Regions from separate parts of the Homo sapiens genome. Here regions 1 and 2 are each linked to region 3. Evidence: fine-mapped expression QTL. Tissue or cell type: whole blood. Region 3 holds a variant in brackets; each other region holds the start of a gene. All regions are shown on one strand. Distances are from middle to middle.

Region 1 (8,104 bases), 38 kb after region 3:
CTCATCATTCCTCTTCCTCTCAGCCAGTCTCTGACCCAGTGCAAACAAATGCAGCTCTATAATTGACATGCAGCCACCGCAAAGCCTAGCCAAGAGTTCTGTGCTGCACCTACAGCTGGAAAGGTTCAACAACCACAGTTTTCTAAACCCAAAACTAAACGAGTAGCCTGGCAGAGCTTGGAAACCCAGAGGTAGTATGGAGTATGGTTAGAGAATGGACTCCTGAGGCAGAATCTTACTTAGATTCACTAATTAGCTGTGTGACCTTGGGCAAGTCACTTAGCCTCTCTGTGCCTCAGTTTTCTCAAATGTAAAAACAGGGATAATAGTGCCCACCTTATAAGGTTGTTCTGAGAATTAAATGAGTTAGTGAATGTAGCATTTAGAATAGTGCCTGACCTATAATGAGTTCTATATATGTTAGCTACTATTGTTATTAATACTTGAAATTGGGACTGTCCCAGGAAACAGCAGATGTCAGCCGTGTTCATTAAAATAAGATATGAGATACCACAGTGTCAGAATGTGTAGCCTTACTTACATAGCTAGTATTTTCTACTATTCTTTCTCTCCTTGTCAAGATTCATCCAATACTTATATAATTCTTATTCTTCTGAACCAGCCCAGAAAATCTCCCATTCCTCTCTGTTTGGCCACCAAAACAGTCACAGCATCCTTGTTTCTGCCTCATGGCCTTCAGCTCTCCCTTCTGCAACAATTCTGCTTTTAGCAACTAACAAATCCCATGCTTTTGGTATTTAGGAAATTGCTTTTGGTTTTCTGATAGTATTAAGCTGACACTGACAGGGCATAAAGAACAGAGACGGGGACACCCCTGCCCCACTTTACTCCATGAGCAGAACATCTCCTTGAGTTTGAACTTTCTTAGGATCCTACACTGGCCAAGGCACCTAGGCCCAAGCTTTCCTTTAACTATGCTCACCCATTCCATTATAGTCCCAGAAAAGCTGCTTTCTTATTTCTCTCCTGGTGACTTCCAAGTGAATTATTTCTCTTGGGGTAGAACTCAATTCTATGTCAGGCTATCTATCTCTAAAAAGAGAAGAGGTCGCTGACTCAGAGGTAACAGTGCTGGTCTCATGCAACTGCAGATATTATCTCATGTTGCCTGCTCGTTGTTAATAAAGGCTTAATTTGAGATACATCTCAGAGTATACTCACAAACAGTGTCAGGCCCTTCAGTAGGTTGGATTCATCTAACAAACATCCCCAGGTATTTTTTGAAGAATTCAAGGAAATATACCTGTGACACCTAGAAAGTAACTCATATCCTGAAGCCTTAGGCACTATTAGCTAAAAGTAGTGTACATTAATTAATTTTAAAAATCTTTAATTTAAAATCACCTTTTCCATGATGAATCATCTCAAAGTCATAGCTTTTATTCAACAGCTTTTTGCAAGTGGGCATTTTTCAGACATTGGGAATCCCAGCAGGGCCCAATTAGCATGTTGGATTATTTAGGTAATCCCTGCACTCTACTGAAATGCAACTTTTCATCTTTGACTTCTCTTTACATTCCAACACTACCTGTTTTCAGGAGCTATCAGTTTTTTTTGTAATCAGCCTCATATCCATTCTAGGGATGATTTTCATATTTATCAACAATTATTTTCTCATTTATGCTGAGCCCTTACAGGATTTTGGAAAGTCAAAGGTGAACTACAGAGGATTTTCCCTGGAGCTGTTCACAGCCAGTTGGGAGGCATGGACACAATTATGGTTCAAAGTGATTAGCAGAAGTTTAGGTCTATCGGGGCACAGCAGCAGGTACGAGTAGAGCTCCAGGGAAGGGGCAGAGAAAGGAGACATCAAGGAGGAGATCACATTTAGTTTGATACTTTTAAGGTGATACAAGAATTTGCTAGGTAGGAAAAAGAATGTATTCATTATAGGCAAGAGCCACGGAGGGGGACGACAACTGGAAGGAGGTGCCACTGGGAAGGAGGTTGCAGTGAGAGTCTAAGGGGCAAAAATGAGGAACAAGTGAAGGGGCATAAATGAGGGGTCCTTAAGGGGGAAGATGTGCACGATCAGATTCAGGTGTCAGAAAGGCAACTTTAACCAAGTCTCTTCAGATTCTCTTTTTGCATCTCCTGAATTGCAGACACTAGGACTCAATCATTTTTTAGAAGCTAAAAAAAAAGTTCAGGCAAGATGAATTAGTATTAAGGGAGTGTTTGAGGCACCTGTGGCAGTGTTGTGCAATAGAAGAGGTGGAAGGAGGATGGCTAGGCTTTTCTTCCCTGATGTCCTACTACGAAAGGTTCCAGAGCTCTTGGCAGAGACAGTGATTGGTTCCGGGGCGGCGGTGGGGGGAGGGGGGCAGTGGTGGTGGGGGGTGGAGGAGCTCAAAGAACTCTGGAGTAGAAGCCAGAAGAGCTGACTAGCAGCAAGACCCAGACATCTCCCTTCTTCCACCTCTGTTTCTTCACCTGTGTGCCCAATATGGTTTGAGCTGCATCATCTTCAAGTTCCCTTCCAGCTCCAAAACACTGGGCATAAAACAACACATCAACTTCCAAACCCACTCTGAACACTAAACTCAATTTAACCAGACATCTTTTCAGCTGGAATGATTTGCCTTCCACTTTGTTTTCTACCTCAGATGCCTGGGGGACCACATGGAGAACACCCAGGGGAAGAGAAATTGATGGAGTGGGGTGGCTGGGTGCTGGCTGCTGACCTCCAGGAAGTTGTCACATCTGTTAGGTTGGGGCTGATGTCCCTCATTCTATCTAAAGAACTGTAGCTTGAGAACTTTCCTTTTGCTTGGTAAATACTGCCCTACACTAGAAGCAGTCGGTGTTCATTGACAGAAACAATGGGCAGCCAGTGTATTTGCCCAAAGGCAAGTCAACAAGAGAGGCAGCTGAAGGTGCTTGTGCTTGTTGTAGCAACTGGCAAGGGTGTAAATCAGTTGTTGCTTTTAGCCCATAATAATGAGATTCAATATTGTTTTTTCCAATACCTTTGATTGGTTCCAATCATATTACTTTTTCAAACAAATCTTCATTAGTAACAATCAATGCAAAAAAAAAATCTGTAAAAGTAACAAGGTGCAATAAAAGTAGATGAAAGACCTTACTTGATGTGTTAGAGGGCTACCCTCTAACACATAGCTCTTTGGTAGCTCTTCGGATAATTTCCCGTTTCCTTTTTTTTTTTTTAAGTTTATGTCGTTTCTTTAGTATGCTTTCTAGTAGTAAATTTTCACACCCCAGTTTTTCCAGGAGATTTTGGAATCAGCAGACTTCTCAGCCCACACCATAAAAAGCAAATTAATCATGTCTCTGTTTCAGCCAATTGAAGCTTTTGTTTTTTTTTACATAAACTGCCAAAAAGTTTATGGTTTTCTTAATATGCCCATTAAAGCTGGTAAATTACAGGGACGCACACTTCCTGGAAGACAAAGACTGAAAGAGGGTTAAATGAAGTGAGAGCTGTAGCCAGTTTAGACAGCTGCAGCGAAAGCGAAGTCCCCTCTCCATCCCACCCCCCAAAAAAAGGAGTTCTAATTTTCTCCACTTCTTTCACAGAAAGGATTAGATTTTCTGGGTGTCACCCTCCCCGGCAGAGTTCTGTAGCCTCGGGCACCCTACCAGCTTTTGCGATCCTCCTTCCCAGGAGTAGGAAGTGGAGGCGGCTTACCCCGGCCGACGGGAACGAGCGCGATCACCAGGGCGAAGACTAGGGCTGCGCGGGGAGCCTGCATGTCCGCTCGCCTCGGCAGAGGCGCGCTCAGGATGCTGCGCCGGGCTGCAGCCTCTCTGAAACGTGAACATTTCCTGTTTCCTGCTTGTTTGGGTCGGTGCTGACTTGAAGGAGAGGTGTGTGCCTGTTTTTTAGGAAGTGATGTAATTCTGCAGGAGCCTGTCAGACCAGCAAGGATTGCAAAAGAGAAGTTGCTGTTGAAGCACTGGTTCTATTATCACGCCTCTCCAGCCCTTTGGAGTCCCGGCCTCCAGCTTTTGAAACCGTCCCCGGGGCAACAGAGTCCCTTGCTCAGATGTCGTTCGGTATCTGGGACTGGGAGGGGTCCTGGACCACACGCATTCTCACTCTGTGATTTTGCTTATCCCCCAGGTGAGGCTCCGGGGCTGCCTAGACCCTAGGAAGAAGCTGTCCTGTAGAACTTTCTGCCCTGATGGAAATGTTCCAAGTCTGCGCCGTCTGATACAGTATCAGCCACATTGGCCACTGAGCATTTGAACTGAGGCTAGTGCTGATGGAATTTAAATTTTATTGAATTTTTATAAAATTTTAATAACTCCAAGTGGCTAGTGGCTGCTGTGTTGGATAGCGCAGGCCCAGACAGCAGGGACAACTGCATCATCAGAAAACTGCCAGACCACTTCTCTCCGCCAGGTCCATTCTCCTTTCTCCACTCTGGAATGCCCTCCTCCCACCAAGGCCCACGCCAGATGGAGGTGGATGCCACACCCACACCTTAAGGTTATGTTCTGCTTCCCCAGAGAGAAATGATCTTTTCAAGGTCCATTTCCAAAGGAGAATATGCTCTGAGGGTGGAGGTAGGGGTGAATCTGCATCTCACCTTCCTTCCTTCTTACTTGACAATCAAGTTCTCAGACAACAAACAAAACAGGACAGAAACGAAATAGAATAATGGTAGAAATCCTATCCAATCGAAACAATACAGAAAGGTTGTGTCTAGTATACAGTGGAGATTAGTGTGTGTTGGGTGTTCTATTGGAGGTCCTTCCCTTGGTTTAGGTTTAGGGCCTAAGCATTCAGAATGCAGTTTCATAATCGTGGTGCCAAGAGAGACAGACAGATGGAGAGAGGGGTAGTGTTGAGGCATCAGACACATCTCATCTCTAAACCTTTCCCTGCAGATCACCATCTGAGTCATGACTTCCCGTCGTTTGTCTTCAGTGATCTGGTTGGTGCAAACGTATGAGGTGACTGGAATTCCTTAGCCCCTGACATAGCTGTTAATTTTTCTTTAATGCATTGCTGCTTTTCAATGTCATTAGTCACTGTTTATCTCAGTTATTATTCACAAGAAATAGGTTGGTGATTCATGTAAGGATCAGTTTGTTAATGGATTTACAGTATGCACTTTAATGTTTTAAACTGGCAATTAAGTCAATTCTTGATAAAATATGCTTTTTGCACCACAGGTGACAATACAGAACAAACAGCAGGAGAAAATAGACGTGCTCAAAACTGGGTGATTGATTTGAAAACAACAGAGAAAGAACTATTAATTAAACACTTGCTGAGCATGTGAATAGATCACGGGCTCCAAGACCTGCTGGTACTGAGTTGGGGTGGCAATTATTCCTGTACAAGCACGTGTTTCTGCAGCTGTGACACACACGTGCAAGAAAGCAGGCCCAGGGCTTGGGAGTTCTCTCCATTTTACCATTTATGCCCTATTAAAATATTATTAAATGTTATTAAAACATTGTTGAATCCCAGGCTGGAGGCAAATGTTTGTCAAGGGCAAGGTTGTCAGCCTTCGTTTCTTTCATCTTAAACTTCAGCTCCCTGTGGAAGCTTTTGCAGTCAGGTGTCTGTGGATTGGACCACAGACTGTCTTATTCTGTGGACCTCTGCTGAGCCCCATGACATGGCCAAACAGTTCATTACTGTTTCAACAAGTGCACTATGCATTGCTTCTGAGCAGTGCAACACTAAATCAGAGTGAGGTACAAAATAAACTGGAGCTGCAGAGAAATCCTGCCCAACCATGTAATTTTCTTTTGACCCCTGTGCTCTCTAAGACCCTTAGCATGATTAAGCTGATCTTAGGGGGAAGAAAATTACCATGATTGATCAGAAAATGGTAGCACCTCAATGATCTCTTTGCTGCAGTTAAAATCCCAGGGAGGCTGTGTGGTAGGTAAAGGGCTATTTACCTCTGTTTTAATTTTAGCAACCATTAATTTAGGCAAATAGCCACCCAGCCTCAGATTAAATCCCGATGCACTGGTGGCAGGAAGTCAGGGCCTCAGTCCCAGATGTGGGGCACAGGGGAACCTCAGAGTGAGTGGCACACAGGCAGGGGTAATGCCACTTTGGAGCCTGCCATTGGCTGTCTGAAAGCAGGAAAGAAGTATGGTGCTTCATCATGTTCAGAAGGGCAGGAAGGGACACTGGGAACCATGTCTAGGGACTCTTTATTACTTTACACAAAGGAGTGTGACTTTTACAATCAACTGTCTGTGCTACAGAAGTGACTCTCATCCTATCCTCCCTCCCTTCCCCCCGCCCCCTCCCCACCACCACTCCATGGGCCATAAAAGAAGAGGGACTCCAAGGGAACAAATCCAGATAAATGATAGGATCTTCCAGTGGGTGCAGACAGCCTTCTCCGCGTTCCTCTTCACACTCCGATCCTGCCATTCCCAATACACACAGATGTGCACATGCACTCAGATACACACACAGCTGTCTCTCACACACACATTCATGCACATGGTGGAAATAAATGAAGACTAAATGAGCACAAGCAAATGAAACCAAGCAATGGATATTAATTCAGAGCTTGCCATAGCAAGAGAGTCAGCCACCATCGCTGCATTTTGGCACAGACCCAAAGGCAGGCCAAGGAATGAGATAACTTTACAGTCGATAAAAGGAAGGCTCAGGGCCGGGTGCAGTGGCTCATACCTGTAATCCCAGCACTTTGGGAGGACAAGGTGGGCGGATCACCTGAGGTCAGGAGTTCAAGACCAGCCTGGCCAATATAGTAAAACCCCATCTCTACAAAAATACAAAAATTAGCCGGGCATGATGCGGGGTACCTGTAATCCCAGCTACTCGGAAGGCTGAGGCAGAAGAATCACTTGTACCTGAGAGGTGGAGGTTGCAGTGAGCCGAGATCCCACCATTGCAGTCCAGCCTGGGCGACAGAGCAAGAGTCGTTTCAGAAAAAAAACAAAAGGAAGGCTCAGGTATGGCCTGAAGGGAGGCTGCTGGCATGGGGAACCAGCAGCAAGTTCTAGTGATTGGTGAGGAGGTGCATATTTTGCTGCTGCTAGATCAGAAGAGGAGATAAAAATGAGGGAATCTGTCAGAAGGTGCTCTGACCTCCTACAAGTTTGATTTCTAGCAGGCTGGCTTCCTAGACTTGCTACTGAAGATAGTGAATTGGTTTCTGGGGGTTGGTTGCTGCAAGCTGGGAGCCAGTGTTCTGTTTTTGCATATATTATTTGGCCACTGTCCATTTGTACATCCAGTCTCCCAACACACACCCACAGGCACACTCACATACTCAGAAATGTGCACACGTGCTCACACACACACGCTCTCACATCGACACTCACATACAAATGTTCTGGAGCTTCTTTCTCTGTCTAAATGCCTGCTAGTGACAGTGGATGGTTCCTGGGTGTTTGGTTGGCTGTGGGCTGGCCCTCAAACAAGATAATAGTAACATCAGGTGGGGCCTGTGTATCACTCTGAAGCCAGCTAGGAAGGTGCAGGGAGGAGGCAGATTGAAGTCCCAGGTTCTGAAGGAATGCCCAGAGAGGTAGCCGGGCAGGGCAGAGGCTGGGGCAGAAGGATTAGGCTGACATTTAGCGTGTGCAGAGAAGCCACAGCCAGGAGAGGGGCTGACAGCCATCTCACTGCGCGTGAAGTGGGGGCAGCTGGAGCCTGCACAGCCGGGCTCATCTTGACCAGCCTATCTCCACCCTTGGGGGTCTCTGTCTCTGCATCCTGGCTGCCAATACTCTTCAGAGAAACTGTTGCAAGGTTTGGATAATCCTAGGGGCTTCCATGACAGGGTCTTCCAGGGCCTAGGTAGATGGCCTGGTCACCACAACATGAAACTGTAAAGGATTGTGATTAGGAGCTAAAGTGGCAGTTGACACGTGGGACACAGTGCAGCGCTCTGGGCTAGAGGGTGCTGGGGCGTATCTAAGAGACAGAGCAGCAGCTCACTGCTGAACATCCACAGTCCTCCTCTAATTGCCCTCTGAGAGCAATGGCATTCTCTGTCTTGCTCTCCAGTCTATCCTCAGCATTTAGGACAGAGAACAGAGAAGTGAGTAAATGGGGGGAAAATCCCTTTACAGCAGTATTTTTTTAAGTGCACTGGAGGGGGCCACCTAT
Region 2 (8,104 bases), 110 kb before region 3:
GAGGTGGGCAGATCATTTGAGGTCAGGAGTTCTAGACCAGCCTGACCCACATGGTGAAACCCCATCTCTACTAAAAATACAAAAAAAATTAGCCAGGCGTGGTAGCACATGCCTGTAGTCCCAGCTATTTGGGAGGCTGAGGCATGAGAATCGCTTGAACCTGGGAGGCGGAGGTTGCAGTGAGCCAAGATCGCTCCATTGCACTCCAGCCTGGGTGACAGAGCAAGACTCTGTCTCAAAAAAAAAAAAAATACCGTAATTTTTAACCAATCCATAAGCAATAAAAGTAGGTCCTAAAGTTAGTAAGCAACTTTGACAGAGTGCAACCTACATTCAAACTATAGTTTGTTTCTTAGTTTGTCCTCCCCTCCTTCCCAAAATACAGCTTCTACTGTATTTTGGGTACAGTATTTTAGAAAATGACTACATTTCTCTTTGCAATATCTTAGTGAAAAACAGAATACGTGACTCTGATTCTAACATTACATCCACTATTCAGTATTTTCATGTCAGTACACATTTAAAGGACAGAATTTAAAGTTCCTTACCAAAGCATAACAAGGCAACTAAAGAAAAACAATTCAGTGGGAGAAGTTCCAGAGGAGGGAAAAGTGGTCAAATGAAAGACATTATTCTAAGACAACAGTTGGAGAAACTGATGGTAGAAATAATGAAAGTCCATAAAATTAAGAAAAGATGAACTGAGGCTTGTCCTGATAATTCTTGAAACACAAACTCTGACTGTGTCCTGAAAGTTTAGGGACACAGGTATGGAATATGTAAATGAACTGTCACATAATACACAGGCTAATAAACTTGCAGAACTCATTACTTTAAAAAAAAGGACCAAACATTGTTAAGTTTGAGAAAGTTTTAAATTAATCTAATCAAGATCCTGAATGGAGAACTTCGAAAAGAGAGATAACCCCAGGCTTACATTCATTCCCACAAAGTATCTCTCAGCAGTGGCTTCAGACAGAACGAGCCCACAGTTGTCTAGACGGACCACAATTCTCAGTATACTACTGTCTATGTCTTCTTACATAAAATTCTGCTCTATGTTTAACCCTTAAGGTCTGTATATGAAATATTAATTACTTTCATAAACCTTTAATTTGGTACTCTGACAAGATACCTAAAATACAAGTCAAAGGTTTTATAAACTTCAGCTTTAAAATAATGGAAGGAAAAAATCATTCCTGACTTAAATATCAAAGATGTATCCTAAATTGATACAGAAATAAAGATAATTCAAAAAAGCAAAGCCTCAAACCAAATAAAAAAGTGCTGTAATTTGTTACTCTAAAAAAAAAAAGGGGGGGGTGAAAGGGAAAAAATCACAACTTTTATAAAATGATTAATGTGATAAATGCTCTTCCCCAAGTAAGTTGTGATTCCTAACAACTCAAGTTCCTGAGTAACTGACATCTGTTACAGTGTCCTCCTGACACACATGAAATTGGACCCAGTAACTGAGAAGGTTAACTCCTGTACCAATAGGTACTGAAATGAACCTCTCTCAAAACAGGTTTGTTGTTGTTTTTTAAAAAAGGAATTTTACTTTCAGGGGTCCACAGGTTAAGTAGTTCTCATTCGGGAACCTATATGAGAGTACCCCCGAAACAAAAAGTACACCGCACACACCCACAGTACCAGGAAAAGGTTACAGATACAGATGGCCTCTGTGCGCACATATGCTCTGGCTTCCTCAATTTCCCTTTGCCAACTGCTGGCCAGAAAGGTGCGAGTATTCACTTTGGAGAAAAGACTCCTCCGACAGAAACCTGCATACTTGCATTACTCGTACAAAGAGCTAAAAAGTTACAAAATACAGGCCTCCCTAACACCTTCCCCCCTCCGTGAATAAAGCTAGACTCCCTCATTGATAGACTCCCAACACTACTGGAGAACATCAGCAAAACTCCAGGAGGAAGCGCCGGCATCCTCCCACTTTCTCCCCCTCAATTCCCTCTCCCGGGGCCACTCACACTTTTAGAAAAGAGCCGCGGCGCCGAGAAAGTGGGTTGGTTCCCTTCCTCCTTCGGACTGAAGCGGCAGCTGCGGAAGGCTCCGGCGCGGTACTGAGGAAGAAGCGGTGCTCGTGTCGCTAAACCAGGCGGCAACCCGGGTCTCTTCCGCGCTGCCAGGGGAGGGGAGGCGGCGGCCCCGCTTACCTCCTCTTTTCCTCTTCCTGGGTCTTTTCAGGCTGCGGCTTCTGCCCGTCCAGGGCCACTTCTCCCGGGACAGTCAGGTTTGGGAGACTCCGGATTTTGTTTTTGTAAAGTTTCCTCTGGGTGGAGGCTGCGGCCGGCCCCCCGGGTCCCCCCCGGCCCCGCCGCCCTCGGGACTGGGGCGGGGGAGGGGGGCTCTAGGAACTCCTCCCGGAGTCCAGCCAAGGAGCCGGGGGGCCGGCGACTGGCCAAGGGAGAAGACCCCCGGAGGGGGCTGAGGGGAGGGGGAAGGTGAGGAAAGGACGGCGGCGTCGGTCCTGTTCTCTCCGCCGCCCCAGCCGCCGCTTCACATCGGGGTCCCCGCCCCCCCGGCCGGGGGGTGGTTGCCGAGCTTGGTTGGGGCCCCGGTTCATACACTCCGGGGCAAGATGCTACGGCCCCGGGCGGGTGGCCGAGTCGGCGGCAAGGCGAGGGACCCGGCCGGCTCCGCTCGGCGCCGCCCCCGCTCCCGGCTCCCGCATGTGTCGCTGCGGCTGGGACCCCCCTCCCTACACCTTGGGGGTCTCGCCCCACGCCCCACGGGACGAGGCAGAAGCTCTGGCGCCTCCTCAGCGTTCTCTCACCGCGGAGCAGCTACCCACTCCCGGCCCGTGGTAGCCGCCTCCCTGCCCCCCAAGCCGCCGGCTCCGGCTCAGGCTCGGGCTCCGGCTCTGGCTCCGGCTCCGGCGTGTGCAGCCGCCGCTGCCGGCCGGGAAGGTGAGGGGGGGAAAGGAGTGCGGCCGCGGCTCCCGCTGGCCCAGGTGAGAGCGAAGGTCTCGGCGGCGGCCAGTGCAGGGGGACTGGATCTCTCGGATGCTCCTTCGCTCTCAGTCTCAGCGGCGGCGGCGGCGGCAGCGGCAGCGGCAGCGCCCGGAGCTCAGCTCGCTGTCTCCCTCGCTCTGTGCGGGGCTCTCGCCTCACTCCAGAGAGAGGGGCGGGAGGAGAGCGGCGCCTGCCGATGACGCAAGTCACCTAGCAACCGCTCTCTTCCCCCTCCCTCTTCTTTCCGCTCTGAGGCTTCCTCCGCTGGCCTTTTTCCCCCTTCCAGCCACCCCGCCCTGGGCGCCTCTGGCGCGCTCTGATGACGCTCCAAGGGAAGAGGAAGTGGGGATCGGCGAGCGGGTGGGTGCGCCTCGGGCCGCGGGACTCGCAGCCGCCACCGCCGCTGCCGCCTCTACGGCCGCGTCAGAACTGAAGAGAGGAAGGGGAGGAGCCGAGTCGAGCCTAAGCTGCCGCCCGATCTTACCCCTGACCCGAGGGCGGCCTGGAGAGCTTGGTCTGTAGCGGTTTCCTTCGGGGCAGGTGGGGACTGCTCCTTTGGGAGGAAGGAGGAGGCCCAGGCCGCGTCTTCAGGCAGCTGCGCGCACCACCCGAAGGTGAGGCATTTGGCCCCAAACAGACCCTCGAAAAGCCGGACTGATCGAGGAGTTACCCTACAGCCTGATCTGCACCTGCTCCAGGGAGAGAGCGCCCCACCCTTCCCGTGGCGTGGGGTGAGACCCAGCGTTGGATAACGTGTGGTCGGGCCGAGCAAATGTTTGATGAATGAATGAATGAATGAATGCCTCTCTCACGTGGCACTCGTGAAGCTCAGAGGATATGGTGGAAGTGCAAGCGCTTTGTAAACTGCAGTGCATTGTAAAAATGAGTTGTAATACATTCCTCCCCTCCCCCTAGCCATGAAAGGAAACAGGGGTGCGGCTTGAGTACAGAGTCACAACCTGAGTCTTTAGTGGAAAAGGAGACGAAATGCCGAGCAAGGGAAGGGACCCATCCTCGCGCAGATTGTTAGGGCGGCGGGAAGGGAGGATTGGAAGGGAGCCATCCTCTGGGAGATTGCTGAAGGATTTTTGACTGTCAGGGGAAGAATTTAATAGTCCCTCACTTTTACGAATGGTTCTTTCTTACGGTTTGGAGCTTTCGAGAGCTTCTGGTCTTGGTTCATCAGTGTACGTTGTCATCAAGAAATGTTGGCCTGTTTCAGGTCTGACTCAAAGGTTATTTTCTTTCTAAAATAAGTGTTATTACTATTATGCAGCTTTTCCTACAGATGTTATCCTGGAAAGGAAAGTTAAGTAGAAACTCATGAAGTTTAAAGTGTAGTTCTCTAGGAAAACAAATTTAAGATAAAAGGACCAGAATCCTCAGAAATCTGTCTTCAGTGAATAGTATGAGAAAAAGATTAAAGCAGCAGCAATGATGAAAGCAGATTCCACAATTCTGTCCCTGGACCCTAGTACACTCTACCTCCTTGGGAAGCAGTAGTAATGGATTTTACAAGTCTTTCCACCTGGAGGAGGGGGTAAGGTAGGAGCAAGTGTATTATAGACAAATGTGGGAAGCTCTGGGTTTCTCCCACTACTGCCACTACCATCTGCAAACAGTAAACTAAGGAAACTTTTAACTGGGTAAATCCAAGGGCTCGTGTTCATTAAAATGCTGCGGGAAAGGTGGTGAGAGGGGCAAAGGAGGATGTGGCAAAACCAAGGAGAGACTCACAGACTAGCACCTGACCCTACTGCCCTTGACCTGAAGTTCCAAGAGCCAGGTTAAATATCCTGCTTAAATTACCCTGGATTTTTCTGTCTTTACGTGACCAATCCCCTGCTACAGCCTTCCAAATAAGACTCACAGGTAATCAGACCAACAAGTGATGGTCTCACATGGCTACAAAATAAATATTTTTTGTTTTTCCCCCTCTTCCTATCTTACAACAGGGGAATGGTGGAAATTAAAGGAGTAAAACACACAGATTTAGGGGATTTTGTGAAGCTAAACACCTCAGAGAGTTTAACCTTTGTAGGCTTTGAAGGAAAAGAGTGCAAACATCAGAGTTCTGCAGCCCAGCAGAGAACACCTCCAGTTAAGTGTGTACCACATAGGGTTTTTCAGCAGCGTGATCTTCTGTTTTCATTGTCAGTGGCTCCACCTTACAACCTCAGTGCTGAGGAACAGAAGGGCACTCAGGAGAGCCTGAGCCACTTACTTAGAAAGTATTTAATAACAGCACACTAAGCTTACTGGGCTAGATACCCACCTCAGCACCCAGCTTGATAACAGGAGGAAACAGCTGGAACTGGAGACTGGAGAGAAGGAAGTTCATACATTTCCAACTTGGTCTGCATCTCTTTAGTTCCTTGTATTGCTTATTAATCCAGAGGAGAAAACAGCTAGTTAATTAAAAATTCCAAAAAATCTGAAGTTTTAGCTAATAGTTACTTCCCTGGTTCATCAATTTAAGATAAGGATCTAAATACTGTGTTAAAATATAGAAAAACGGAGACTCTTATAAGGTTTTTGACCTCTACACTTGAAAGTGAGCTCTTACAAGAAACTAATCAGTGTTTCGTTATTCCATATCAGTGGCTTTTACTGTCAAAGATTGTGTAAGCTAAATTATCTGGCAAAATTTTGCTTTCCAGAAATACTATCTATATTAATTTTAACATTTTTATTGTGAAATATAGTTTAAATACATAAAGCAATTATATAGTATAAGTGATTATAAAGGAAACCACCATGTAACCAATCAACCAGGTCAAGAAATGGAATATTTCCAGCAACTCAGAAGTTCCCCTCCCTGCCATGACCTTCCCGAACACAACTCTTTCCCTCCCTCCTAAGTGTAGTCATTATTCTAACATTTGTGATAATCATTTCCCTGCTTTTCTTTGTCGCTTTGTCGCAAGCATGCATCCCTAAACAATATATTGTTTAGTCTCACTCTTTCTTTTGAACTTTATGTAACTGGAACAATATAATATGTAATCTGTTGTTCTTGCTGCTTTTGCTCAACATTGTTTTTAATTCATATGTTGTTCAGGTTGTTCCTATAGCTGTAATTTGTGCATTTTCATTGCTGCATATTACAGTGTCCCATTATAACAATATGTGACAATATGTTTAGCCATTCTATTGCTGATGGACATCTGGGTTGTTTCCAGTTTAGGATTGTTATAAATGCTAATGTGAACATTCTTCATATATGTATTCCATCACATCTACGTCAGTTTCTGTATAACATATACCTGGGAGTGTAATATGTATCATAAACTTGAATAAATAATGCCAAGTTCTTTTCTAGAGGGTTACACAGTCACACTAGGTATATATGAGTCCCATTGCTCCACACCTTCACAACACTTGACATTATTGGTCTTTTTGGTTTTGCCAGTCTGGTGGGTGTATGGTAATATATCATTGTGGTTTTAACTGTCATTTCTCTGATTACTGATGCTGTTGAGGACCTTCTTGTATACAACTAGCTATTTGGATTTACATTTTTGTGGCGCGTTAGTATCTTTTCAATGTCTAAGTCTCTGAGATGCCCAACTTTTCAATATCCTTTCATAGTCCACATTTGAACAGGTAAAGTAATGTTATGGGATGTTTAGGGTGTCGCTTTTCTGGCCAGAAACCTCTGTAGCCTGTGGCGCCTTTGCACAAGTCTTGCTCAGGCCCACTGGGCTCATTCCACCTACTTGGCCTGGCAGGCTGTGCTCAGCTTATGCTACCGGCCTGGATCCCACACCTGCCAAGGGCAAGTACGGCGTGGAGTGGCAAGGCATGTGTGAGCGAGCGTGAGGTCTGGCTACTGCGCAGTCAGACACACCAGCTGCTGCAGTGGGGCGGGCAGCTCCAGATGCACCAGCTCTCTGCAAGGCTGTGGCTGGACCAGGCATACTGCAAGCAGCTTCCACAGCTGGCACCAGGGAACACATTGGCACCCGGAAGCTTGGAGACGCCAGGAACTGCAGGGACCCAAAGAGGGAGTCACAGTGTTGGCTTGGGGAGCTCCCAGGTCTGGGCTCCCCAAAAGGCCACAGCCCTTCCCTCCTCTTCACCCGCAACGTGGCAAGCAATGGGGATGTCTCAGCCCCATTTGTGTTATATCTCGTTTAGCCTCGCCATCTGGCAGGTCCCAAGTTCTTGTCCCGTGACCAGGAAGAATGAGGTACACAGACAAGTGGAGGGTGAGCAAGATGTTATTGAGTAATGGAACAGCTGAGAGGAGACCCACAGTGGATAGCTCCTTTCTGCAGCCAGGGTGTCCCAGTGAGTGTTCAGCTGCTAGCAGGGAGGGCAGCTCCTTTCTGCTAGGCAGGTTGTCCTGATGAGTTTTCAGCTCTCAGCAGAGAGGAGAGCTCCTCTATGCAGGAAGGTTGTCCCAACAAGTGTTCAGTTCTCAGCAGGGAGGATAGCTACTCTCTGCACCTGGTCATCCTAACAAGTATTCAGCTAGCGGCAAAGAAGGTAGCTCCTCTCTGCAGCTGGTCATCCATCGCCTGCTCAGTTCTGACTGAGCCCCGGGCCTCAGGGGAGGAAGTGCATGCTGATTGGTCCTTGGGCAGGCCTAGGAAAAAGCACCATAAGTTCCCCCTCTAGTGTGCAGGATGGGCAGTCCAATCCCCAGGCTTCAGGCCTTCCCCAGCCTAAAGGTGGGACTTCACTGGGAACCCGCTCCTTTCCACACTGGAGCCTGTCTGCCTCCTACCACTTTTCATGGCACCCAGGCTATTTCTGCAGAGGGGCGCCTGTGGGGCCAGCACAGGGCTACCCTCAGCCCTGCCAACCCTTGCCTCCCTCCCATGCTTGTCAGCGCCCAACATCTAGAGGGGGCGGAAGCAGCAGTGGGCTAGCATGTCAGTACTGCCGCAAGCCTGCACATACCCAGCCGGGCTGTGACAGTGCCCAGGCTTGACCCCAACCCCATTCTGAGATCAGAGCAGGTGCTAGGAGCAGGGAGAGGCCAAGCAGTGGGAACAGACACCCAGGGCCTGCAAGGGCAAGGGGGCCTTCCCGTCCCCCAGAGGGTGCAGAGTGCGGAGATGCCCTGGTCCTGCACCTGGGAGGGTAGGGCTGCCGCCTGCTGCATGGAGTGTGCAGGCAGCCCC
Region 3 (8,104 bases):
AATTTTTTTTTAATCCAGTGAGCTGGGTCTTAGTATAAAGGCAGTGAGTTTCTGTACATCAGTCCTAACTTCCTAATAATTATACTAGCAATAACCAGTGCTTATTGAGAACTTACTTTGTTCTGGGCTTTGTTCTAAATCCAATGTACTTTTCTTAGATTTTTTAATGAATAAAAAATTAACTTTGCAATATCATAATAACCTTTGAAGTAATCAGAAAGTGCCTAGTGGTACAAAGATCTGGGACTTGCCATTCTTGGTTCTCGAATGCTGGTGCTGGCATTACGAGAGGGCATAAAGTGAAGGCCTGACAGCCATCCTGTGAATGCCACACAGCTCTGGACCCACAGTGGAATGTAGACCTTCCCTTTTAAAACAATCATTTAACTATGTGAAGGCTCTAGCTCATTTTCTCATTATTTCAAAAATCTGACTTTTTTTTTTTGAAACAGAATTTCTTTCACTCTTGTTGCCTAGGCTGGAGTGCAATGGTGTGATCAGTGCTCACTGCAATCTCCGCCTTCCCAGTTGAAGGGATTCTCCTGCTTCAGCCTCCCAAGTAGCTGGGATTACAGGTGCCCGCCACAACGCCTGGCTAATTTTTGTATTTTTAGTAGAGATGGAGTTTTACCATGTGGGCCAGGCTGGTCTCGAACTCCTGGCCTCAGGTGATCTGCCTGCCTCAGCCTCCCAAAGTGTTGGAATTACAGGCATGAGCCACATTGCCTGGCCAAAAATCTGATTTTTAAGAAGATTTCACTGCCATACAATTCTGTAATGTTAAGCTTCTTCCATGTTGCCAACAATTTCAAAGAGCAAAAGGCAGGAATGTAAAAACCACTGAGGGTAGTTTTTAGCATCATTGAGGTTGCTCATCAGTGATAGAGTAATAAGATACTTAAGATATTTATGGAGTTTTAGTAGTGATCTGAGCCCTATACCAGACATATATAGTTACATATTTCCAGGTAAGATCAAAACATGGGGAAAATATTCCTTTGTAATATTCCCCCTGGCATTGTTGTTTTCTTCCACCTGCTTGTTAATCAATCTCTCTCTCTCTCTCTCTCCCCCTCTCTCTCCCTCTCTCTCTCCCCATTTCTTTTAGAGACAGGGTCTTGCTCTTGCTTGTTGCCCAGGCTGGAATGCAGTGGTACAATCATAGCTCACTACAATCCTGAAATCCTGGGCTCAAGCAATCCTCTCACATCAGCCTCTCAAGTAACTAGGACTACAGGCAAGCGCCACCAAGCATGACCTGGAATCTCTTTTAAATAGGATAGAATCCTTCCTGAACTGGCAATAATCTTAACATGAAAATGCCTAGGGTGGTGATATTGACCTAAATCTACAATAGGTATAGACTTTGGCATCAGAGCTGAGGTTTGTCTGAGTAAGACTGTGGTGGTGTGATGTGAGGAGAGATTTGGGATGGTGAATTCTTAAGTGAGGTTTAGGGGGGAGACGCAGGAAAAGGGTCCGAAGATAAACATCTGACTGCCCCCAACCATTGCCTAATAATCAGTATTCCCTCGCGATGCTCAGGCTTCAGGGGTTGCCTGGTGACAAGTGACTGACTGGCACCAGACTTCTGGTGAACATGGAGGGAGAGGATTTATCCTGCCTGAAGGTTTATTCCATTTATTCCAACAGAAGTGTGATATCTCAGGCATAGGCTCAAGTTTTCTTCTCTCCGGGTGTCCATGAGTGTTTGCTGCCAACAACTCAGTACCTCCAAGGTCACAGCAGAGCTCTGCAGAGCCAGTCCCCAACCTTCTGAACCATCCAACCTTTTTCCTTAGAACACTTCCCATGTCCTGACAAAACAGTTCTCTAATCAAAACACCCCAAATGTGGTCATTTCTATCCTCACAAAAGATAATATAATTTAAAATGAGATTGTGGAATGCTAAACTATACACCCAAACCCCAAAGCACTAAAATTTTTCTATCAACCAGAGCCACCTAGTGGTAAAATGGAACATTTTTTAAAAATTCCCATTTATTTTCTCACTCTAGTTTACAGTTACCCACTTTAAGACTGTCGCCTCCATCTGTTTTCCTTACCAAACATCTATTTATCCAAGGTAAACAAACCTACAGTTTGTCATAATTGGAAAGCTTTATGACTAAAACAGAAGCTGAAGCAACAGTGTCTCTTTAGAAGGGCAAGAAAATGTCAATACTCATTTATTTCTAAAGATAAAGAGTCCTAGGATATTTACTTTGTGGCCTTCTATTTTCTGTAACACACTTCCTCTTCTCCACACTATGCACATATCCAGCCGCGTAAATGATCTCATACGAATTATAGGCACGGAGGAGGTAAGCAAAAAGTGTTCCACCCTGGTTCCCAATCCCCCCGCCCCCCGCCATATACATGTAATCTGTGGTAGAAATGAGAAGTACCTTGGGTTGTGATTTGATTCCTTCTCTTCCTTCAAGGTAGGTAAACATTCAAAGTCGGCTAGGACAGAATAAAAGCAAACTCATTGTTAGTTACTGAAATCGTATTTTCTATCCACAAACCTGATACAGTTAAATACCATAGTTCTCTGATCTGCGTGGTTACTTGCACAAAAATGGCCTCACCAAGGAGTGATAGTGATGAAAAGATTAATGATGTCAAGGCTCTTGAAATGGAAAAAGCACTAATAACACAGATGCAAAACTTCAACATGCCTCTGACACTGGAAAGGACACAATTCATCACTGCTTGGTTATTCTGTCCCTGCAGCACCCCAGTGCTCCAAAAGCTAGAATCTGCATGTCTCAGGATAGACAGTGGAATAAGATGGCTTCGCCTGAGGTTCCAACGTGTCTGCAGAATGATTTCCATCAGATTGCACGGTAGGAAAGAATTGGGTAAAGTGGGAAAACAGCTGATCTTCCTATGGTCATGAGTTCTTTTCTATTACACCACTCGTTATTTTTAAGGGCAAAAAAATTCTTTGATTCTATCACCTATGTGTCAAAATAACTCAGCTTTAGTTGTCAAATAGAAATGCCTTTTCCAGTTTTCTGGTTTTAGTGAGTATGACAGAATCATGATTTTATATTTCACAAAATCTCTGGCACAAAACGTAATACAACAACATAGCAAGAAGAGATTGCCTTTCTGTGGTGAATTTTTTTCTTCTACCTTTTTTTTTTTTTTTTTTGCATTTTCCAAATTCTACTATGTATGCATATTACTTTTAGCAACTGAAAAACAACAAAACGAGACTCCTGAAGGACTATCTCAATGACCCGCCCCATCCTCAAATAGAATGGCTTTACAGAGTCCTTCTTTCCTCAATATGAAAAACTGTTAGAAATTGTACAAGTTAGCTGAGTGGCTCTTTTTTGAAATCACACCTTGATAAGCCTCTGGTAGCAATAATTCTTTTTTTTTTTTTTTTTTTTTTTTTTTTTTTTTTGTTGAGATGGAGTCTCGCTCTGTCACCCAGGCTGGAGTGCAGTGGCACAATCTCGGCTCACTGCAACCTCCGCCTCCTGGGTTCAAGCTATTCTCCTGCCTCAGCCTCCCTAGTAGCTGGGAGTACAGACATGTGCCACACCCAGCTAATTTTGTATTTTCAGTAGAGATGGTGTTTCACCATGTTGGCCAGGCTGGTTTCGAACTCCTGACCTCAGGTTATCCACCCGCCTCGGCCTCCAAAAGTGCTGGGATTATAGGCGTGAGCCACCGTGCCTGGCCTGGTAGTAATAGTTCTTATAACCAGTCTCTGAATTTTCTAACTCTACTGTAGAGTGTTGAATTTGACAGACCCTAGGGTATTTTTTTAAGATAAATGGTAAAAAATACAAATGACATGATAATGCTGGGTTTTATTCATTTAATCTAAGTAGTAAAAATAATTAATTTTTAAAGGGAATTTGAAAAAGAAAAAGCAGCTGTCATCATTTTAAAGTCCCATTATTGATTTACTAAAAAGTAAGGAACATATACTTCCATTACTGCCAGATATCAATTGGAAATTGTTATATGGGGTATGTATATCACCATCTACATGAGCAATGTCCAATAGAGCATTCTAAAGTGATAGAAATATTCTACATTACACTGTCCACTTAGTAGCCATTGGCTACTAAACACTCAATATTTTTTAATTTTAATTTTAATTAATTTAAATTTAAATAGCCACATTTGGTGATTATCTATTACGTTGAACAGCACAGATCTATGGATACTACATTTGATAAAGTTTTATATCCATAGTCAGTTTAAAATTGTAGATCTTTAAATTCTGTAATGTATAAGGTAATGCCAGATGCTAACTTTTTCCAGATCATTTGGCCTCAGAGATTTCCTTTCTTGAATAAAATACCATTTTCTGCTTCAAAAAGACCATTTCAACAACTTGTACAGAAATAAAAACAAGTGGCAACAATTAAGCTGAATATTTAAGTATTGTCAGACCAGGTTTATTATCTGCATGTACCAGATCTAATGTGGGATTGGGTTCTTCTGTCTCACTCCAGGATTTATTGAGATATTTATAAAGCTGTTGCAGCCTTCTGTTACTAGAGAGGAAAGAAAAAAAACAACTTTAGGTTACCACATACCATTTCTATTCATGCTGTTCATCCATTTATCAAGCTCTTCCATTTCAATTTCCATAACAGAGGGTGTATCTTCCTCAAAAATAGGGCTAGAAATAGAGAGCAAAAGACTTGTTAGAAAGAAATGTGAAAGATGCCTAATTTCATTTGGAAAGAGACTAGAATGCTGATCCTGAGGAAGATGAACTTGATTCAGTGCCTTATGCTCTAGGGAAGCCTGGGGGCTTGCCCTATTCCAAACTACCAAACTTTAATAGGAAGAAAGGCTACCACACAAACAAACATACATTTATCACAGGTCCAAAAGTGGGGTGCCCACAGGCCCAACAAGTGGACAAAAAAGGGAACCCAGGAGGCTGACTGCTCCCCTGAAGGTGCAAAGTCAAGTCTGCAAGGCTCCCAGGGTGAGGCCCTTCC[G/A]GGGAGTTGCCATATGAAGCATTTTAGCCTTGCTTAATTTCACTTCCTGTTCCTTGGGGTTTTTTGATCAGTGCCCCAGGTCAAGAGGCCACTGTCAACAGGCTACAGTTATCACCTGTCCCTTCAATTCCCAGGCCTTTCTCTCTTGGAGAAATGGAGCAGTTGCTTTCAGAAATTCACCGCCCTCACTTGCAGAAGCTCAAAGTGCACAGTCAGGGGACAGAGTCCGTGGTTAGTGGAGATGGGGTTGGGGAAGGATGGACCACCAGCTCTGAAAGCAGCGTAGGCGGTACACTGCGTAGAGGAAGCGATAAAGTTTCTAAACCAGGAGGCTGCTTGGAAGATGGGGAGGATATGGCATCACCCCAGAACATGCTTCTGAGTGGAGGCTTGTTTTTCTCTCTCCCACCCCTCCTTCCCTCCCTCCTCTCCCTTCCTCCTGCTCCTCCCACTCTTCCCTTCTCCTCCTCTCTCTCTCCCATCCCTGGGGGTTCTTGCTGTGTGAACTTCTGCTTCGACCAGGGCTCCCTGCTAAATACCAGCTCAAGTATCTTTCCTGGTGATAAAATTTCTAATCAGAGTAAATGAACCAATGTCCTTGAAATACAGCTAGGGATAGAATATTTAACTGCTATGCACTTGAAATTGGTAGCAGTCAGGATTCTTTTCTGAATGTAGGACAATGAAATAAAACAGATGCCAAGCTGTCTTTGCCCAGATCACACTCACACGCTGGATAGGGTTTGGGGATGCCAGCACATCCTCCCTCAGGCTGCCAAGGATCTCCAACCCCGCCTGGGAAGCAGGAGAGTCCCGCAAGATGTCAGAACAAAAACACCTGAAAAGGCAGCTGTCCACCTTAACAGTTGCTGTTCACACCCCAGGTGGATCAGAAGCAGCAGGGAAAACTTACACTTTCACGTTTTCACTTCCCAGTTCATCTAAAAGGAAATGAACATAAAGGTCATGTTAGCTTTGTTCTTCTGTAACAACTTTTAATTTCAACAACAGCTGAAGTCTCCTTTACAAAGAGAGCAAAATGACATTAAGTAACATTTTTAAAGGAGCGATCATTAACTTAGAGTCAAAGAAGTGTGGATTGCCATATTAAAACGAGGTCCTAATCCGTGTGAAATCTGCTTTCTTTTAGATGTGGATGGTCTGCTGAGAACGCTCACTTCAGACCAGATGTTCATCCGTCTTTATTTTTTACATCCACAAGAAGAGGAAAACATTGGTAAGGAAAGGCAAGGGAGGGTGAAACAAGAGGGCTTGCTCCTTGGCCTCCTTCAGTAAAATGTCCCAGATCTAAAGGCTGCTGCTTCATCTCCTGTGATACACCATGCTGAACACTGTGACACTGTGCCTCACTCCTGGTGGAGGATGTGGGATCTTCCATCAAGGGCTCCCCTTGGAATTTTCCTTTTACCCCTGCTCTTGGCATGGCTGGATCCCTCACAACTTCAGGGTCCCAGCTTAAATACTCTTTCCTCGGGGAGGCCTTCCCCACCTACTCTATTTAAAGAAGGGCCCATCTTTCCTGTTGCTCCCCAGCTCAGCACCTTGCTTGCATCTTTCATAATATTGGCCACAATTTCTCATTGGTCAACCCGTCTGTTTGATTTTTTTTTTTCTGTCTGTCTCTCTCACTAGACAAAGTACAAAGGGGCAGGGATCGTGTCTGTCTTATTTATCGTGGTATCCCCTCAGCTCTGAGCCAGCTACCACAGTACCTTGTAAATGCCTAGTCAATATCAGTGGAATAAATGATTAGGTGTTAACCTCAATTGTCCAGCACTGGGGTTCAATTCATGTCCAATATTTCAGACTTAGCATAGTGAAACTTCCAACAAGCCTGTTTTTAGTTCCTGTTGGTTGAGGTGAGAGTCAGGTAACTGTTTACAAAATGGCTGTAATGCACATCAGACTCCAAATGAACAAGTGGTGAGAATTGGAGCCTGATGTCCCAGCTGAAGCCCTGTTTCATTTGGCAGGAGAACCAACACATCCAGAGAAATGAGGCAATGATGTTGAGTGGATAGCATAGGCCTGCTGCACCATTCATCATGTGAAACCTATTGAAAAGCAAACCACTTTGTAGGGGCCCACCAAATAGTCAGAGGTTTCTGATCCTTGGCACTTAAAGGCCTCCTATTGTCTGTCCTGGAGAAATGGAGGTCCTCAGTGAAGGAACACAACCAGCAGACACCTGGAACTGAGTTCCTGGCAGCAGTGAGCTGCTGTAATTTCCTGTGGGTTGGCAAGCTTGAATGGCATTGCTAATCCAGGAAAGCTGGGCACAGATGTAAGTTTCATGCCATCACCGCTTGCCTTCCAGGAGCTGCAGGCTATGTCCTCCTGCCCTCCAGTAGGCATCTAAAGCTTCCTGCAGATGCCTGACTCCTCAGAAACTTAGATGGGGGAAAGGAGAATACACACACACACACACACACACACACACACACACACACACACACAGACACCACAAACCCACACTTTCTATCTAAAATATAAAGGCTATTTCCTTAAGGAATTTTAATATAAATAAAGCTCCTACACAATTGAACATCCCTGCAGGTGACCCGTAAAGCTCCTCCTGTTTTGTCACTCCCTCCTCCTCCCTCTCCCTTTTCCCCTGCTGAATAAACCCCTGACTATTTTCCCAGACAGCAAGTGGCTGCATGGCCCCACCGTTGTGGGCATGGATATATCTTTATAATCCGGGTTCCCCACAGGCTTCAGGGTGAGCAAAAGCTAGCCTGCAAGCAGATGAAGGAAAACTTTTAAAAGCCATCACAAAAGTGCTCCAGATGCACCAAATGTGAAGCTCCTGTAATCAGTTTGAAAACAGAGCAAAAAGCTTTCTACGGCCTCATCTTCCCTGCTCCATGGCTATTACCTCTGCTCCAGCCACCATGGCAACAGAAAAACATCTGGGAGGGCACACAAAGAGCAGAGCATTAAACCAGGAGGAAGACCAATTACTTGTCCTCAGCAATCAGGCCCTGCCCGCTCCACTCCACCTGGCCTATATATATTTATGAATAGCCACCTATTCCCTTTGCAACCAGGAGGCAAATGCAGCTCTTACAAAGCTCCATCTCAAACCCCTATTCCATTT

Evidence for each region. PIP is the estimated chance that this variant, and not a neighbour inherited with it, causes the effect.
Region 1: TMEM154 starts here. The variant in region 3 is fine-mapped to the expression of TMEM154 in whole blood (TOPMed, PIP above 0.99). The same link has a PIP of 0.9 or more in T cells and blood mononuclear cells.
Region 2: FBXW7 starts here. The variant in region 3 is fine-mapped to the expression of FBXW7 in whole blood (TOPMed, PIP above 0.99). The same link has a PIP of 0.9 or more in blood mononuclear cells.

What each region holds. Positions count from the first base shown.
Region 1 is chr4:152,676,200-152,684,303 of GRCh38, forward strand. TMEM154 (transmembrane protein 154) reads right to left here and starts at 3,798. Exons shown (of 7, transcript NM_152680.3): 1 at 3,671-3,798. The coding sequence starts at 3,734. It overlaps LOC105377495 (a long non-coding RNA gene), which reads left to right and starts at 3,886. Exons shown (of 4, transcript XR_939359.3): 1 at 3,886-4,105; 2 at 4,388-4,474; 3 at 4,876-4,941; 4 at 5,164-5,463. RefSeq lists enhancers at 275-364, 3,432-4,261, 3,572-3,881.
Region 2 is chr4:152,532,953-152,541,056 of GRCh38, forward strand. It overlaps FBXW7 (F-box and WD repeat domain containing 7), which reads right to left and starts at 3,140. Exons shown (of 14, transcript NM_001349798.2): 1 at 2,175-3,140; 2 at 1,989-2,081. It overlaps MIR4453HG (MIR4453 host gene), which reads left to right and starts at 3,312. Exons shown (of 1, transcript NR_033797.2): 1 at 3,312-6,311. MIR4453 (microRNA 4453) reads left to right here and starts at 3,476; the gene lies at 3,476-3,564. RefSeq lists enhancers at 1,486-1,585, 2,835-3,370, 3,076-3,435 and a silencer at 2,176-2,965.
Region 3 is chr4:152,638,519-152,646,622 of GRCh38, forward strand. It overlaps TMEM154 (transmembrane protein 154), which reads right to left. Exons shown (of 7, transcript NM_152680.3): 4 at 5,897-5,924; 5 at 4,570-4,655; 6 at 2,410-2,467. Among named protein-coding and RNA genes, the nearest start is that of TMEM154, 37 kb to the right of the region's middle. RefSeq lists enhancers at 4,696-4,765, 5,911-5,970. The variant G/A (reference allele first, on the strand shown) is at 4,984.